4 linked regions of the Homo sapiens genome follow. The protein of the gene in region 2 purifies or fractionates together with the protein of the main gene of each other region. This does not show direct contact. Each region holds a gene or a part of one and is shown on either strand. Other genes may lie near its edges.

What was found. The genes of interacting proteins can lie anywhere in the genome.
Region 1: the proteins of FMR1NB (region 2) and BOP1 purify together in Homo sapiens (affinity purification with mass spectrometry; 2 studies listed by BioGRID and IntAct, with this or other methods). This does not show direct contact.
Region 3: the proteins of FMR1NB (region 2) and PITHD1 purify together in Homo sapiens (affinity purification with mass spectrometry, with the first as the bait; one large-scale study listed by BioGRID). This does not show direct contact.
Region 4: the proteins of FMR1NB (region 2) and RRP12 purify together in Homo sapiens (affinity purification with mass spectrometry; 2 studies listed by BioGRID and IntAct, with this or other methods). This does not show direct contact.

Annotation. Positions count from the first base shown.
Region 1 is NC_000008.11:144,277,760-144,281,486, reverse strand, and holds part of BOP1 (ribosome biogenesis protein BOP1), read left to right. Parts: intron 1-3,727. UniProt on the Homo sapiens protein: Component of the PeBoW complex, which is required for maturation of 28S and 5.8S ribosomal RNAs and formation of the 60S ribosome.
Region 2 is NC_000023.11:148,022,622-148,026,348, forward strand, and holds part of FMR1NB (FMR1 neighbor protein), read left to right. Parts: intron 1-2,243; coding exon 2,244-2,379; 3' UTR 2,380-2,392; intron 2,393-3,727.
Region 3 is NC_000001.11:23,781,370-23,785,096, reverse strand, and holds part of PITHD1 (PITH domain-containing protein 1), read right to left. Parts: intron 1-3,727. UniProt on the Homo sapiens protein: Promotes megakaryocyte differentiation by up-regulating RUNX1 expression.
Region 4 is NC_000010.11:97,363,162-97,366,888, forward strand, and holds part of RRP12 (RRP12-like protein), read right to left. Parts: coding exon 3,581-3,727; intron 3,461-3,580; coding exon 3,285-3,460; intron 3,073-3,284; coding exon 2,947-3,072; intron 743-2,946; coding exon 693-742; intron 1-692.

The sequences.
Region 1 (3,727 bases), on a different chromosome or scaffold from region 2:
TATGAAAGTGAGAGAAGGCCGAAGACCTGGTATTAAACTGAGAGAAGGCCAAAGACCTGGTATGAAAGTGAGAGAAGGCCGAAGACCTGGTATTAAACTGAGGGAAGGCCGAAGACCTGGTATTAAACTGAGGGAAGGCCGAAGACCTGGTATTAAACTGAGAGAAGGCCAAAGACCTGGTATGAAAGTGAGGGAAGGCCGAAGACCTGGTATTAAACTGAGGGAAGGCCGAAGACCTGGTATTAAACTGAGGGAAGGCCGAAGACCTGGTATTAAACTGAGAGAAGGCCAAAGACCTGGTATGAAAGTGAGGGAAGGCCGAAGACCTGGTATTAAACTGAGAGAAGGCCTAAGACCTGGTATTAAACTGAGAGAAGGCCGAAGACCTGGTATTAAAGTGAGAGAAGGCCGAAGACCTGGTATGAAAGTGAGAGAAGGCCTAAGACCTGGTATTAAAGTGAGAGAAGGCCGAAGACCTGGTATGAAAGTGAGAGAAGGCCGAAGACCTGGTATTAAAGTGAGAGAAGGCCAAAGACCTGGTATTAAACTGAGAGAAGGCCTAAGACCTGGTATGAAAGTGAGAGAAGGCCGAAGACCTGGTATTAAAGTGATGATTCCAGATTTTTTTTTTTTTCTGAGACAAGAGTCTGTCTGTCACCCGGGCTGGAGTGCAATAGCCTGATCTCAGCTCACTGCAGTCTCCACCCCCCAGATTCAAGCAGTTCTTTCTCCTGCCTCAGCCTCCCGCTGTGATTACAGGTGAGCGCCACCAAGCCCAGCTAATTTTTTGTATTTTTAGTAGAGACAGGGTTTTCCATGTAGGCCAGTCTGGTCTCGAACTCTTAACCTCAACTGATCCGCCTGCCTCGGTCTCCCAAAGTGCTGGGATGACAGGTGTGAGCCACTGGGCCCGGCCTTCCCAGATAATTTAAGGAGAGTTTGGCCTGTGCCGGAGCATAATGCACACTCTTGGGCAGGGGATCCCGCCAGCGTCTCAGCGAAGGCTCTGGGAATGGCAGGTGGCAGGCCGCGTTGCTGCAGCGTGGGAACCCTGGGCTCGGGCCCCCTGTCGCTGTGGTTCTGGGGTCTGGGTGCTGGTGCCGTCTGCTGGAGAGTGGTCTGGAGCTGCAGCTCTGTGGAGTCTGGAAAGGGGCTGCCCAGTGATTCTCACCAGCTGGTCAGTGGTGGAGAAGTTGCCTGGGTGTGGACCACAGAGCTGGGGATGGAACCAGGGGCCAGGGCTGGTGGTAAACTCCGCTCTTGCCTCTGCCTGTGGCCTTGCTTTGGGTTCTTTTGAAGACTGCCAGCTCCAAGCTTCTTGGCCCCCATGGGGGAGTCAGGCAGCTGTTCTGCCACCTGCCCTGACACTTTGCAGCATCAAACAGATATTTTGTAGCATTCTGGATTCGAGGGGTCAGAGTTCAGGCCGAAAGCAGCAGGGTCAGTACACCCTGAGTACAGTGTCATGCTGAGGGGCCGGGGAGCCCCAGAGGGTTCTGGTACATTCCACCTGAGGAAGATCGACACTCAGCTCACATCCTGTGCTCTGGGACTTGGGTGAGGATCTCAGGTGAGCACAGCCGGGCCTCTTGTGTGTCCAGACCGCCCCTGACAGCCATGTTCACGAAGGGTACCCCTGTCCAGCTGTCCCCTCTCCCAGGGCTCAGGGCTGCAAGGACGTGGTCTCCTGTGCCAGGCAGAGCCACACGGCCTTCACGACCTCAGCCCAGAATCCTGTGGTGTCAGTGTGGGCTGCCTCCCTTGGGTGGGTAAAGCAGCCACAAGCCCACCCAGATTTGCGGCGGGGGGGACATAGACTCTGTCTCTTGATGCGATGAAAATCAAAGGTTTGTGGCCGTGTTTTAAAATGGTCACAGTCACCCTTACGCTTGCCAAATAGTCTCTTCCCCCAGCGCTCCCCAGAACCTCATTCCACTGCCAGGGTCTCATCTAAACCAGGCCTGATAGATGGGGGTCCTTGGGCCCCTCTCTGCACAGCTGTCTGCAGTGGGGCACCGAGTCACAGTGCTGTGGAGTGGTCTCTGGTCTGTGGTGGTCCTAAGGTGGCTGAGCACATGGCTGGTGGTGGTCTTGGCCATGGTGGTCTTGGCCCGTGGTGGTCTTGGGGCCTGTGGTGGTCGTGGCCCATGGTGGTTGTGGCCTGTGATCGTCAGGGCCCATGGTGGTATAGGGGACCTGTGGCAGTTGTGGCCTGTGGTGATCGTGGGGCCCATGGTGGTCTTAGGGCCTGTGGCGGTCGTGGCACGCAGTGGTCTTGGGGCCTGTCCTTGAGACCCATGATGGTCTTGAGACCCGTGGTGGTCGTGGCCTGTGGTGGTCTTGAGGCCCATGGGGGTCATGGCCCATGGCGGTCGTGGCCCGTGACGGTCATGGCCCTTGGTGGTCATGGCCCGTGGTGGTCTTGGGGCCTCTGGTGGCAGCACACATGGCCAGTGCCTCATGCAGGGTTGGCCTCCATGCCTGGGAACGACCCTGCCACTCTTGGGCTCCTGCCCCGAGTTACCTTCCTTTTCCCTGAGTAAAAAGGGATGTTTTTCGGCTGTATTTTCTCTGGGCTTTTCAGTTCCTGCTGATGTACTTTCTTTAAAACAAAATGTGGGTTTCCTAGGTACCTGTTGATGAGTCGTTGCTGTCACACGAGCCATCGGCACAGAGCTCTTGGATAGCAGCCTGTCTCTGTGCTGGGCACCCTGCGGCTAGCGTGGGCAGGGCCCTAGGGAGCCTTGGCCGTGCTGAGGTGCTGGGTGTGGGGTCTGTGGTGCAGCGCTGGGTTGTCTTGGTGTCCTTGGCACCCCGACAGCGATGTTCTGGCTCTGGTCTCTGGGCAAGTTAGGACTGCTTCCCTCCTGCTGTCCACGTCTCCAGCAGAACCCTCTTGTGGGCAGCCCTGGGAGCAGAGTTCTCTTCCCACCGAACCGGGACACCGCAGCTCTGTCGCCATCCTCTCCCAGGAGGTGAGGGCAGAGCCCGTGTCTCATGCCTGGTTGGTGGCAGTGGGGCACGGCCTGGCTGGCCTGATGCTGGGGAGGGGAGGCTCTGGTGTGGTCACAATAGGGGGCTCATGCGCTTGGACACCGTTTCTGTCTGGCTGAGCCCACTGTGGGTTTCTCCCTTTGGTCCTCATGGTGACATTCTAGCCCTGGGGCTGGGCAGAGGCCACGCAGGGTTCAGGGACTACAGCAGCCTTTCCTTGGCCCCAGCGGCCCCGCATCCTGCTGGCACCTCGTCCTTGCGCTCCCCCTCGGCGGCTCCCTGCCCACCCGTCGGTCCTTCAGACCCGCCTGCCTCTGCCCAGTGGCGCTCGCCCGCCCACTCTCTCAGCTTTTACTTCACCCTCACGCAACTCTCGTGCTCCATCGGGCCCGACCCCTCCTCAGTCAGGCCACGCACACTGCGGGTGGTGCTGGAGACCCTGGAGAATCCGGGCTGACTCCAGGCATGGGCGTGGCGGGAGGGGGTCCTGTCCCCAGGAGTCCGGAGCGTGGCGTGGGCTCATGTTCCGTTGTCTGTGTCGTTAGGGTTTTGGTGGCCTTTTCCTCTAATTTTTAAGTTAAAAAAAATACGTTCAATGCCCCACAGCATCTGCCTCCAAAATCTGAAGGGGCCTTCTAGGTCAGGCAGTTCCCAGCAGTGGCCGCCCCTGCCCGCACCGCCCCTGCCCGCACCGCCCCTGCCCTTCGGGCGCTGGGCCTGGCTGAGCGCCGTC
Region 2 (3,727 bases):
TTTCACTCCTACTCTCTCCCTTGGGCATTTTCATTGCCTATTAGGTAGAATAGCTAACCTTGGATCTCAGTAGTAAATGTTAGTCATATAGCCAGTTAGTGATGAGGCTGAACAAAAACCAAGTCCTCTGAAACCTAGGTCAGTTTTGAAATAATAAGGCCGTGTTGCTTTTTTGTTGTTAATTAAGGTGAAATGTACATGACCAAATTTAAAAGAAAATCTGTAGATAAAGAAAACATAGTCATTTTAATTATATAAAGTAGGCTATATTGACGTCACAGCATTAGAAAAAAGCATAAGTTCTCAATTTCTTCTCTAAAATCCTGAAATTCAAAAATTTCTGCAAACCTAAAAATTTTGTTGTATTCATTTTGCGACAAACCTGGACTGAGATTCCTTCTAGTCATTATTTAATTCTTAGAGTGAATATTCATATATTTGTTGCAGAAATGTTACTGTGTTTGATTATGAGATGCTACCCCAGACCCCATGGGAATGTCATGTAGTATTCAATATATCGTGTCATATTACCTTTCTAAATCCAAAAGAATCTGCATTCTCAAGCACATCTGGCCCCAAGGTACTGAGAACTGTGTAGTTGTTTCAGTTATTATTTTTTTTAGACTGTAGGTAACAACATGGCAACATAAATAGGCCATAGATAAATCATATAAATATATTTTTTGCCTTCATTCACCATTTCATTTATGCCCAGAGACATTTTTTTGATTAATTGGGAAAGAATTTGTTTCTTTGCCCCACATTTGTCTTACCTAGTGGAGCTCAGTGTCAACCCAGTAATACAGTTTTAGGGGAGAAAAGTTAGTATTATTTATCTTCAAAGTCATAATTTCAAAGGCAGACTTATCTTTCTCTGGGACCCACATGCTCAGAACCTTGTTTTTCTGTACAGCTAAGTAGCACTTACAAGGTCCTGGTATCTTCTTCTGCATGCTACCTAGCTTGAGCTGAGGATAGGATTATTTATCTGTCATTACCTCTTCATAATATTGTGTGCAAATCTTTCTTTTTTTCTGTCTTTGGATTTTTCTCTTTACCTCTGCCATGAACATTACTATTTTTTTTGGCTTATGTTTAGTTCTTTAGAAAGTAAAAGCCCTATAAGCATAAAAATCAACAAACATTTCCATTTCCTCTGTGGGATATAAAAAGTGATAAGGTAAGGTTCCAGTCTGAAGGAATTTACAAGCTTTGAGGAGAGAATGAGACAGGTTAGTGTAGTAGGAGAGAGATTGTACTTTAGATTTAGGTAGGTCTGGATTTGAATCCTGGTTCTACTACTGAGTAGTTTGGTGACCTCGGCAAGTTACTTTCCGTCTTGGTGCCTCAGTTTCCCCATATGAAAAATGGGAATGATAGAAATAGTACCTGCCTCATCAAGTCGTTAATGAAGATTAAATGAGATCATGCACGTGAAGTGCTTATTATGCACATAGGAAGTTTATCATACCTGCTGCTAGCCATTATTCACGAACACTGCAAAGTGGTCTAATGGAAAAAGCTTGTACTTTAGAGTCAAACAGACCTACGTTTAAATTCTAGCATCTCCATTACTAGTTATCTGTGACCTTGGGTGAATTATTTTACCTCTTTAAGCCCCAGATTAATCATTTGCAAAATAGGAAACACACTATCCACCTTCTAGGGTCGTTATGAGGATTTAATGAGAAAGTATATAAAGCACTTAGTGAAGTTCTTGGCATGTGGTAGCCTCTCAAGTGCCCCTTTACCAACTGTCCACACAAATACAAGGAGGTACGAGATTGTATACCCAATGACAACAGGAGTAAGTGAAGGTGCTTTGAAAATTGTAAATGCTAATACAATGTGAGCCATTACTGTGTAGATTTGAAGTTCATAGGAGGAAGGAATCCCTCTAAACTAGGAGTGGAAGAGCTGGCTTCCTAGACAAGATAATATCTAAACTTACCATTAAAGAGTGGGTAACATTGATGTCAGCACAGGGAAGTGGGAGAGCATTTCTGTTACAGATGGTCACATAATCAAAATGACTGTATAGAGAATAATAATGATGGTTATGATGATCAATATGAGCAAGCCAAGTGGAATAATTTCTATCGGATTTATTAAATCTGGTGAGTTAAAAATATCAGGTGGGAAAGTATAGTTATCTGGGCAAATATTTTTTTCCTTATAACCCTCCCATTGTTATTCTATCACTAATGAGAAATAAGGTTTCACTTGAACTTTTTATGTTACAGCGAACCGGCCGATGATTTACAAAGGCAGGACAACAGAGTTGTAACGGGTTTGAAGAAACAAAGAAGGAAGCGAAAGAGGAAGTCTGAAATGTTACAGAAAGCAGCAAGAGGACGTGAGGAACATGGTGACGAGTAGCAAGAGACCAAAGGTAATTGACAATAGGATATAAAGTTGAAGTGCTCAATCTCTGATTCTTGTTAGCTTTATATTTCTACCATCATCTTGGCTTGACTGACACATTTTTTTTAACCACACAAATGTTTGGATCACAGGAGGGCCAGCTTCTGAACAAATATTTATCACTAGAGATATTGAGATGGTAGGAAAATGGATAAGAAATGTGCCAAATTGTTTTGAGTGCCACATTATATGGTATACACAGGTCAGCTTTTCAGAGGGAGAAAAGAAGTTGATCCTGCCCACTCTGACTCTATGGCTCCCTGATAGACACCCTTGGTAAATAATGAAGGCCACAGTCCTCATATGTGACCACATCACATATCCAGGGGAAGGAGAATGGCCTTAGGAGTCTGACAGAGATGAGATTGAATCCTGGATCTTACCTGTTAGTCTCAGCTACCTGTTCTTCAAACCTGCACGATGTAGTGTTAGAAGAGGTTGAGAGAGGGATCCCAGAATCATACACTAGGGACTACTTTGTACAGGTTATACTTGTACAGGGTTATAGATCCCTAGCCTTGACTTGGGTCTCCTCCTCCCAAAATAACTGTGAAGGGACAAGTAAGAATAAAATGGTTGGTGAGAAACAAAGCTGTATCTCAGGGACTGGGAGTAAGGAGACCCAGGTCATTAACTAGTAGTGTTTCCATGGGCAGTGAAATTAACCTTTCAGTTCCTTGATACCATCATAGATTTTTTGTGTAACTTAAACAATATAATGTATGTGAAAATGTTTTGAAAATTGCAATGCAGTACCCAAAATTATGGTATTAAGTTACAGAGAAGCAAAGGAATGGAATGACAGGCCATTGAATTCCGTGTCAGGAGACTCTGGCTTTAGTCCCAGTTCTGCCATTATTTACAGTGTTTGCTTGAGCAAGTCCTTTAACTTTCTTGGGCTTCATTTCACCAATCTTCAGAATGAGAAGGTTGATTTGATGAATAGGAAAAGTGATTTATCTCAGAAGAAAAAAAAGAAAATCTTTATATAAGGTATCATATATATATATGGGATACATATTTACTTAAGGTAACACATAAATATGTATTACTATAATGCCTGTGTATTATTATTCATATAAATATATTACCTTGTATTAGTTTAATGCAATACATGTGTGCATATGTACACATGTACACACACATATATACATATGTAACATTATAACTAGACTAACAAAACTTGGTTTCTGTGGACCATTCACTGAGACATGGAAGTTAACTTTGTTATTCAGAAATTATCTCTGTAATGATATTTGCTCTAATCTGTTTTATATGTATGCCTCACAGTAACAGAAGATGA
Region 3 (3,727 bases), on a different chromosome or scaffold from region 2:
TAGGTCACATGCAGCAAATGCATGGAGAAAATAAACAACTCAGCACATTCAGACCAAACTGAGGATGTTATTAAATAAAACAGCTTACTCATGGGAAAAATACATACTTTGGCAGAAACATATTACACACAGTTAAGAGATAAAAGATCAGGTAACCCAATGCTCAAGCATTTTTTTGTGTCCAAAAACCACGCCATACACTCAGTCACCTTACAGTTCTTAAAACATTTATAACATGAGGATTTCCATTTTGAAAGATCACAAAAGACTGCAATCTCACATCCAAACCGCTAGAGAGGGTGCAATGAGCCAAGATCACGCCACTGTACTCCAGCCTGGGTGACAGAGAGACTCTGTCTCAGAATAAATAAAAAGTAAACTGCTAGAGAAGAAAATGTTTTTCAAAGAGTAATCTAAAAAGCAGCTGTCTCTATAACCCACAAATTCCCAAAGACTAAGCCACATGTCCCCACCAATTCCAGGGTGTTTTATTGACACACCCACACAGAAGAGGCCTCGATATTAGCTGGGGCAAAATGCATGTAATTTAAGAAAGCCGCCGGGCGCAGTGGCTCACACCTGTAATCCCAGCACTTTGGGAGGCCGAGGCGGGCAGATCATGAGGTCAGGAGATGGAGACCATCCTGGCTAACACGGTGAAACCCCGTCTCTACTAAAAATACAAAAAATTAGCCGGGCGTGGTGGCAGGCGCCTGTAGTCCCAGCTACTTGGGAGGCTGAGGCAGGAGAATGGCATGAACCTGGGAAGCGGAACTTGGAGTGAGCCGAGATGGCGCCACTGCACTCCAGCCTGGGCAACAGAGCGAGACTCCGTCTCAAAAAAAAAAAAAAAAAAAAAAAAGAAAGCAAATGTTTACTTCAAAGTGTTTCTAAGAATGATGCACCACAGAATAATAATAATAGTAAACATTTATGAGCGGCATAATGAGAAGCAGTATAGCGCTGTAGTTAAAATCTAGAGCTAGACTTTCTAGGATTCAAGCCTGGCTCTGTCACTTACCAGCTGAGTAAATTTGGGCACCTGATTTAACCTCTGTTTCCTCATCTGTAAAATGGGAATGGTAATAGTACATATTCCACACGGTTGGTATGGAGATGAAATTGAATCGATTCTAAGTAACGCATATATTGAAAAAACTTTACTATGGAAAAGTTCAAACTTACACAAAAGCAGAGATTACATAATGAATCTCCACATACTTTTCACTCATCTTCGATGATCAACATTTTGTTGATCTTGCCTATCAGCCTGATTTTGCTTAAGCTCAATATTTTAAAGCAATCCCAGACACATCATTTCACCTATAAATATTCCAGTATGGGCCAGGCGTGGTGGCTCACGCCTGTAATCCCAGCACTTTGGGAGGCGGAGGCAGGCGGATCACTTGAGGTCAGGAGTTCGAGAGCTGCCTGGTCAACATGGCGAAACCCTGTCTCTACTAAAAATAAAAAAAAAATTAGCCAGGCCTGGTGGTGTGTACCTGTAATCCCAGCTACTCAGGAGGCTGAAGCAAGAGAATCGCTTGACCCCAGGAGGCGGAGGTTGCAGTGAGCCAAGATTGGGCCACTGCACTCAAGCCTAGGCAACAGAGCAGAACGCCGTCTTAAAAAAACAAAAAATACACACACACACACACACACACACGTATATATACGCATATATATGTGTATATATGCGTATATATGTATATATACACATATATGTGTATATATATATGCGTATATATGTATATATACACATATATGTGTATATATATATGCGTATATATGTAGATATACATATATATATACACACATGTGCCTGTGATCCCAGCACTTCGGGAGGCTGAGGTGGGTGGATCACAAGGTCAGGAGATCGAGACCATCCTTGCTAACACAGTGAAACTCTATCTCTACTAAAAAATACAAAAAATTAGCCAGACATGGTGGCGGGCACCTGTAGTCCCCGCTACTCAGGAGGCTGAGATGGGAGAATGGCGTGAACCCAGGAGGCGGAGCTTGCAGTGAGCCGAGATCGCGCCACTGCACTCCAGCCTGGGCGACACAGTGAGACTCTGTCTCAAAAATAAAATAAAATAAAATAAAATACATATATTTAATACCATTTTACAATAATTGACAATATCAACAGATAACAAAATTAACAGCAATTCACTTTTTTAAATTTTTTTTTGGCTGGGTGCAGTGGCTAGCTCCTGTAATCTCAGCACACTGGGAGGCTGAGGTGGGCAGCCTGCTTGATCCCAGGAGTTCAAGACCAGCCTGGGCAACATAACAAAACCCCATCTCTGCAAAAAAATACATAAATTAGCTGGGCGTGGTGGCACACGTCTGTATTCCCAGCTGCTTGGGAGGCTGCGGTGGGAGGATTGCTTGAACTGAGGAGGTCGAGGCTGCAGTGAGCTATGATCACACTACTGCACTCCAGCCTAGGTGACAAAGTAAGGCCCTATCTCAAACTATATAAATAATTTTTTTTTAAGCCTTGCTCTGTTGCCCAGGCTGGGGTCCAGTATATGATCTTACGATCTTAATTCACCATAACCTTTAATTCCTAGGCTCAAGTGATCCTTTCGCCTCGGCCTCCCCAAAGTGCTGGGATTGAGGCATGAGCCACTGTGCCCAGCCCAGTGGTAATTCTTTTTTTTTTTTCTTTTGAGACAGAGTCTTGCACTGTCACACATGTTGGAGTGCAGTGGAGTAATCTTGGCTCACTGCAACCTCCGCCTCCCGGGTTCAAGTGATTCTCCTGCCTCAGCCTCCCGAATAGCTGGGATGACAGGCGACTGCCACCATGACTGGCTAATTCTTGTGTTTTTAGTAGAGACAGGGTTTCACCATGTTGGCCAGGCTGGTCTTGAACTCCTGACCTCAGGTAATCCGCCTGCCTCGGCTTCCCAAAGTGCTGGGATTATAGGTGTAAGCCACTGCGCCTGGCTGAATGGTAATTCTTTAGTAACATGTAACACCTCATCTGTGTTCAAACTTCCCTGATTTAATACTCTCAATCTAATTTTTCTGGATGTGTCAATGACATGTCATAGTTCAATAGCATTTTTTCTGTATTAATTGAATATAATGGTACATTTTACAATCAATGACATCTTACATTTGATAAAGTATAATATATGTAGTGTGCTTAGAACTGAGGGCTATGTATTCGTATCTGTTCACCCAAAATTGGACACTTACTGTGTTCCAGACCTAATCTAAGCTCTTTACATGTTTTATCTCATTTAAGCCTCTCCACAATCTTATGAGGTATGTATGCACTGTTACCATTCCCATGTTAGATATAGAAAATCCAGGCATAGAGAAGATAAGGTCTCAAAGTCATGAAGCTAACAAGTGGTACAGCCATTATTTGAACCCAGTTTACTCCAGATCCCACACTCTAAATCACAATGCAGCATGGATGCCTAATATTCTCAGGTCAGTCCATCAACTTCCAAGTAAATGAGTCTCCAAAAGCATCAAAGGTATTATTTCCTTAAAATGATTAAATACATGGATTTGCTTTCAAATTCATGTTTCTAATACTCAACTATAATATATCTTAAATCTCTGGAAGTCCTTTAATCAATTTTTCAGATGAATTTTTTTTTTTTTTTTTGAGACAGAGTCTCACTCTGTTGCCCAGGCTGGAATGCAGTGGTGCAATCTTGGCTCACTGCAACCTGCACCTCCGCGGTTCAAGTGATTCTCA
Region 4 (3,727 bases), on a different chromosome or scaffold from region 2:
GGGCATAGTCTGGAAGGGCAGAGAGGGAAGAAACTGCTCCAGAATGGAAATGTTCCACTGAGCTTGAGACTGACAGGTGTTGGGTGATGGGTTGGGCCCACTTCACCCTTGTTGGTTCAGGTGGGGCAGCTGAGAGGCTGTTTCCATCCTGGCAGGCAGCACTGCCAGGTCAACAGGGGTAATGGTGGCAAAGAGGTTGAATTCCTGGGCTTAGGAGACTGGAAAACCAGGGTTCAAATTCCTGGTTTGCACAGACTGAGTCCTGTGACCCTGGGCAGGCTACTTACCTCTGTACGCTCCTCTGGTCACTGGGACAACGGAGTCCCTATCTTCGTGAGGCTATGTGGGGCCCTCAGCACAGTGCTGGGCACACAGCCATGCTCCCCTACGGTGGATGCCCCCACCCCATGCAGGAGCACACAGGGAAGCTGCTGCCCTTGCCCCTGCATAGCACATGCCCTCGCTAGAGAGACAAGGGTCTCTGCCTTCTTTCTCCTTTAACTAGACAACCATCACCCTGTCCTGCCTGGCACCCACAACCTTCTGGACCGCCTGCTATGCACACCTGTGAGGATGCACCGAGCATTCCAGAAACAGGGCAGTTCCAATGTCTACGTGTGGTGGGGGTGAGAAGCTGTGGAGCCCAGGCTTAGGTCTGAAGCCCTAGCCCCCCATCTGCAGGAACTACTCACATTCCTGATGATCACATCTTCCATTGGGTCAGCCATCTCTTCATCTTCGCCTGGAGCCAAAAAAGAGAGGCCCATGAGCGCTGTGGGAGCTCCTCAAAACCTACCCTTTCCTTCTGCCCCCTCCTGGCTCACCAGGCTGCGGGGCCACCAACTCCGGCCCCAGAAAATTGCCTTCCTCAGACCAATATCATCCTTCTGCTAGAAGAGATGAGACCCCTGAGCACTGCCCCTTTCTCCTTCCCACCCTAGGCCCTAGGGATAACGGCCCCTCAAAGAAGCGGTGATCCTACTTTTGAGGTGAATATGGCTTCGTTTGAAACTTTTCTTTTCCCACTCACCCACCCTTCATCTGTTTGAGATTTGAAGAAAGCCCCAGGTTTCCGGGGGAGTCAGGCGCTCCTGCAGCCCCATACACACCCCCACTGTGCCAGGAAGGCTTCATTCTCCTGTTTGAAATCTCTGCCCCATGCAGTATGTGCTGGGCTCCATGTGGGAATATAAAGTATGAAACTGACCAATTGGAGGGAAGAGAAACTCAGGCAAAGTCAATCAACAACCAAAAGACGATAGAGAGCACGTGACCGGCCATGTGTGGTGGCTCACACCTGTAATCCCAGCACTCTGGGAGGCCGAGGAGGGAGGATCACCTGAGGTCAGGAGTTCAAGACCAGTCTGCAACATGGCAAAACCCCATCACTACTAAAAATACAAAAATTAGCTGGGCATGGTGGCGCACGCCTGTAGTCCCCGATACTTGGGAGACTGAGGCAGGAGAATCACATAAACTCAGGACATGGAGACTGCAGTGAGTCGAGATCGAGCCACTGCACTCCAGCCTGAGTGACAGAGCGAGACTCTATCTCCAAAGAAAGCACATGACCAAGGGCTGAAGACTGGGTTTCCTCTGGGCTTGGCAGGAGTTCTGGGGGAATCAGGCCTAAAGGCTGAGGTGCCCAGGAAGGGCTACAAAAGGAGCTTTGAGCTGAATCCTGAAGAGCAGGGGGGTTTGGAAAGGCAGAGAGAGAGGGGAGGGGTCCTGACAGCCTCAGGAATGCCTGGGCACCAAGGGGGACAGGAGATGGGAAAGTATACAGGGGCGAGAGAGGAGCAGAGAAGACACTAGACACGGAAATATAACAGGCACATGTACACCAAGTACATACGCTGTCCCCATTACACCGATTCATCTTCATTCCAACCCGGAAAAGTGGGTATTAGGATTGTATGATATCCACTCTGAAGCAAGGAAACGGAGCTAAGGAGAGGCTGACCGAGCGGCTGCAGTCGTGTGGCTGGTGAGTTGGGTGCATGTGGAGCAGTGAGGCTCCAGTTAGGAGGTGCAGTGAGACAAGGGCCCAGAGCTCGCAGCACTGGGAACCAAACAAAGGGATGACAGGTGTGTTCTTGAAGACCTAGGTGTTTTTTTTTTTTTTTTTTTGAGACAGAGTTTCGCTCTGTCACCCAGGCTGGAGAGCAGTGGCACAATCTTGGCTCACTGCAAGCTCTGCCTCCTGGGTCCACGCCATTCTCCTGCCTCAGCCTCCCGAGTAGCTGGGACTACAGGCGCCCGCGACCACGCCCAGCTAATTTTTTGTGTTTTCAGTAGAGATGGGTTTTAACCGTGTTAGCCAGAATGGTCTTGATCTCCTGACCTCCTGATCTGCGCGCCTTGGCCTCCCAAAGTGCTAGGATTACAGGCGTGAGCCACCACGCCTGGCGAAGACCTAAGTGTTTCTTAGCTAATGGCTGGATATGTGGAGAGGGGCCAGGAAAGACTAAAGAGAGCTCCGAGATGCCACACCGGAGGGACTCCCGGGCAATGTGAGACATTGGGATTGGGAAGTTGGGAGGGTTTCAGCCTCTGGCTCTTTCTGCCTCTAAATCATCTTCAGGGCCTTAGCCAAGTTTGCATTAAAAAAAAAAAAAAAAGAGGAAGGAAGAAAAGGAGAAAGGAAGAGGAGGGGGAGGAGGAGGAGAAAAACAGAAGAGACTAACAGCGTATCACACACAGTAAGGGGAAGTACCATTTCCGATAGTTTCCTTTAAGTTAAATATGTATTGTATAAATGGCTCGGTTACAACATAAAAAGATTTCTTAATGTTTCTCAAAAAAAGTTTGAGAAACTCAAAAAGTTTGAGGAAGCTGCCGAGAGAAGAGTTTCTCTGGTCTGTTTTTAGCCACGCTTCCTCAGCAAGTGATCACCGAAGGAATAAGTGAACACGGTGAATGAATGGACAAGCGCGTTGGGCCCACCTTTGGCACCTTCCTCTTCCTCCATCTTGTTGCCGTCTGCCTCCTCCCTTATGATCAGCCGGCCATCGGCGCTCACCTTGAAGCCGTGGTCCTTCTTCCTGCCCCGGCCTGGCCCTGGCTGCGTGGCTGGGGTGTAGAGTTTGGCATGAGGAGGTGGAAGGCCAGTCCCATGCTACTCACCCTCATCATGACCAACAAGCCCGGCTCAGGGATCCCAAACGGGCGCCTCTCAGCCCTGTCCATGGGCCTGCCATGGATGCCACCCCCTACCCACCACCTGAGAACCTGGCACCATGGCAAGTCTGTTTTCTGAGTGCACTGGCCAGCCCTGTGCTTACCCAGGACTCGTTGGGCCACCTTGGGATCCAGGAAGTTGAGGGGCTCGTCCCCACCGCCCTCTTTCAGCCATGCCCGGCTCCTCTGTCGTGCCAGCTTCCGCTGCTCCTTGCCTCGGCTTCTTTCCTCCTCCTCATTGTCCTCCTCGTCCTCTGAGTCAGCTAAAATCTCCTCAATGCTAAGGACAAAAAGCCCCCAGTCAGAGTGCTCCCAGGAGAGGCGGGGGTCAGCGGGTATTGCCTGGGCAGGCCCTTGGGTTGGGGGGACACCGGGTCCCATGGCCCTAACATGGTCTCACCTGTCACCTTTGCCCTGGGCGGGCTCCTCCTCCTCCTCCTCCTCTTCTTCCTCCTCCACGGCAGCCTGGCTCAGGGCTCGGTGCCTCTTGGCCCGGGCCTCAGCTTTCCGGATGTTGACCAGGACTCTGTGGTACTCCTCGGGCAAC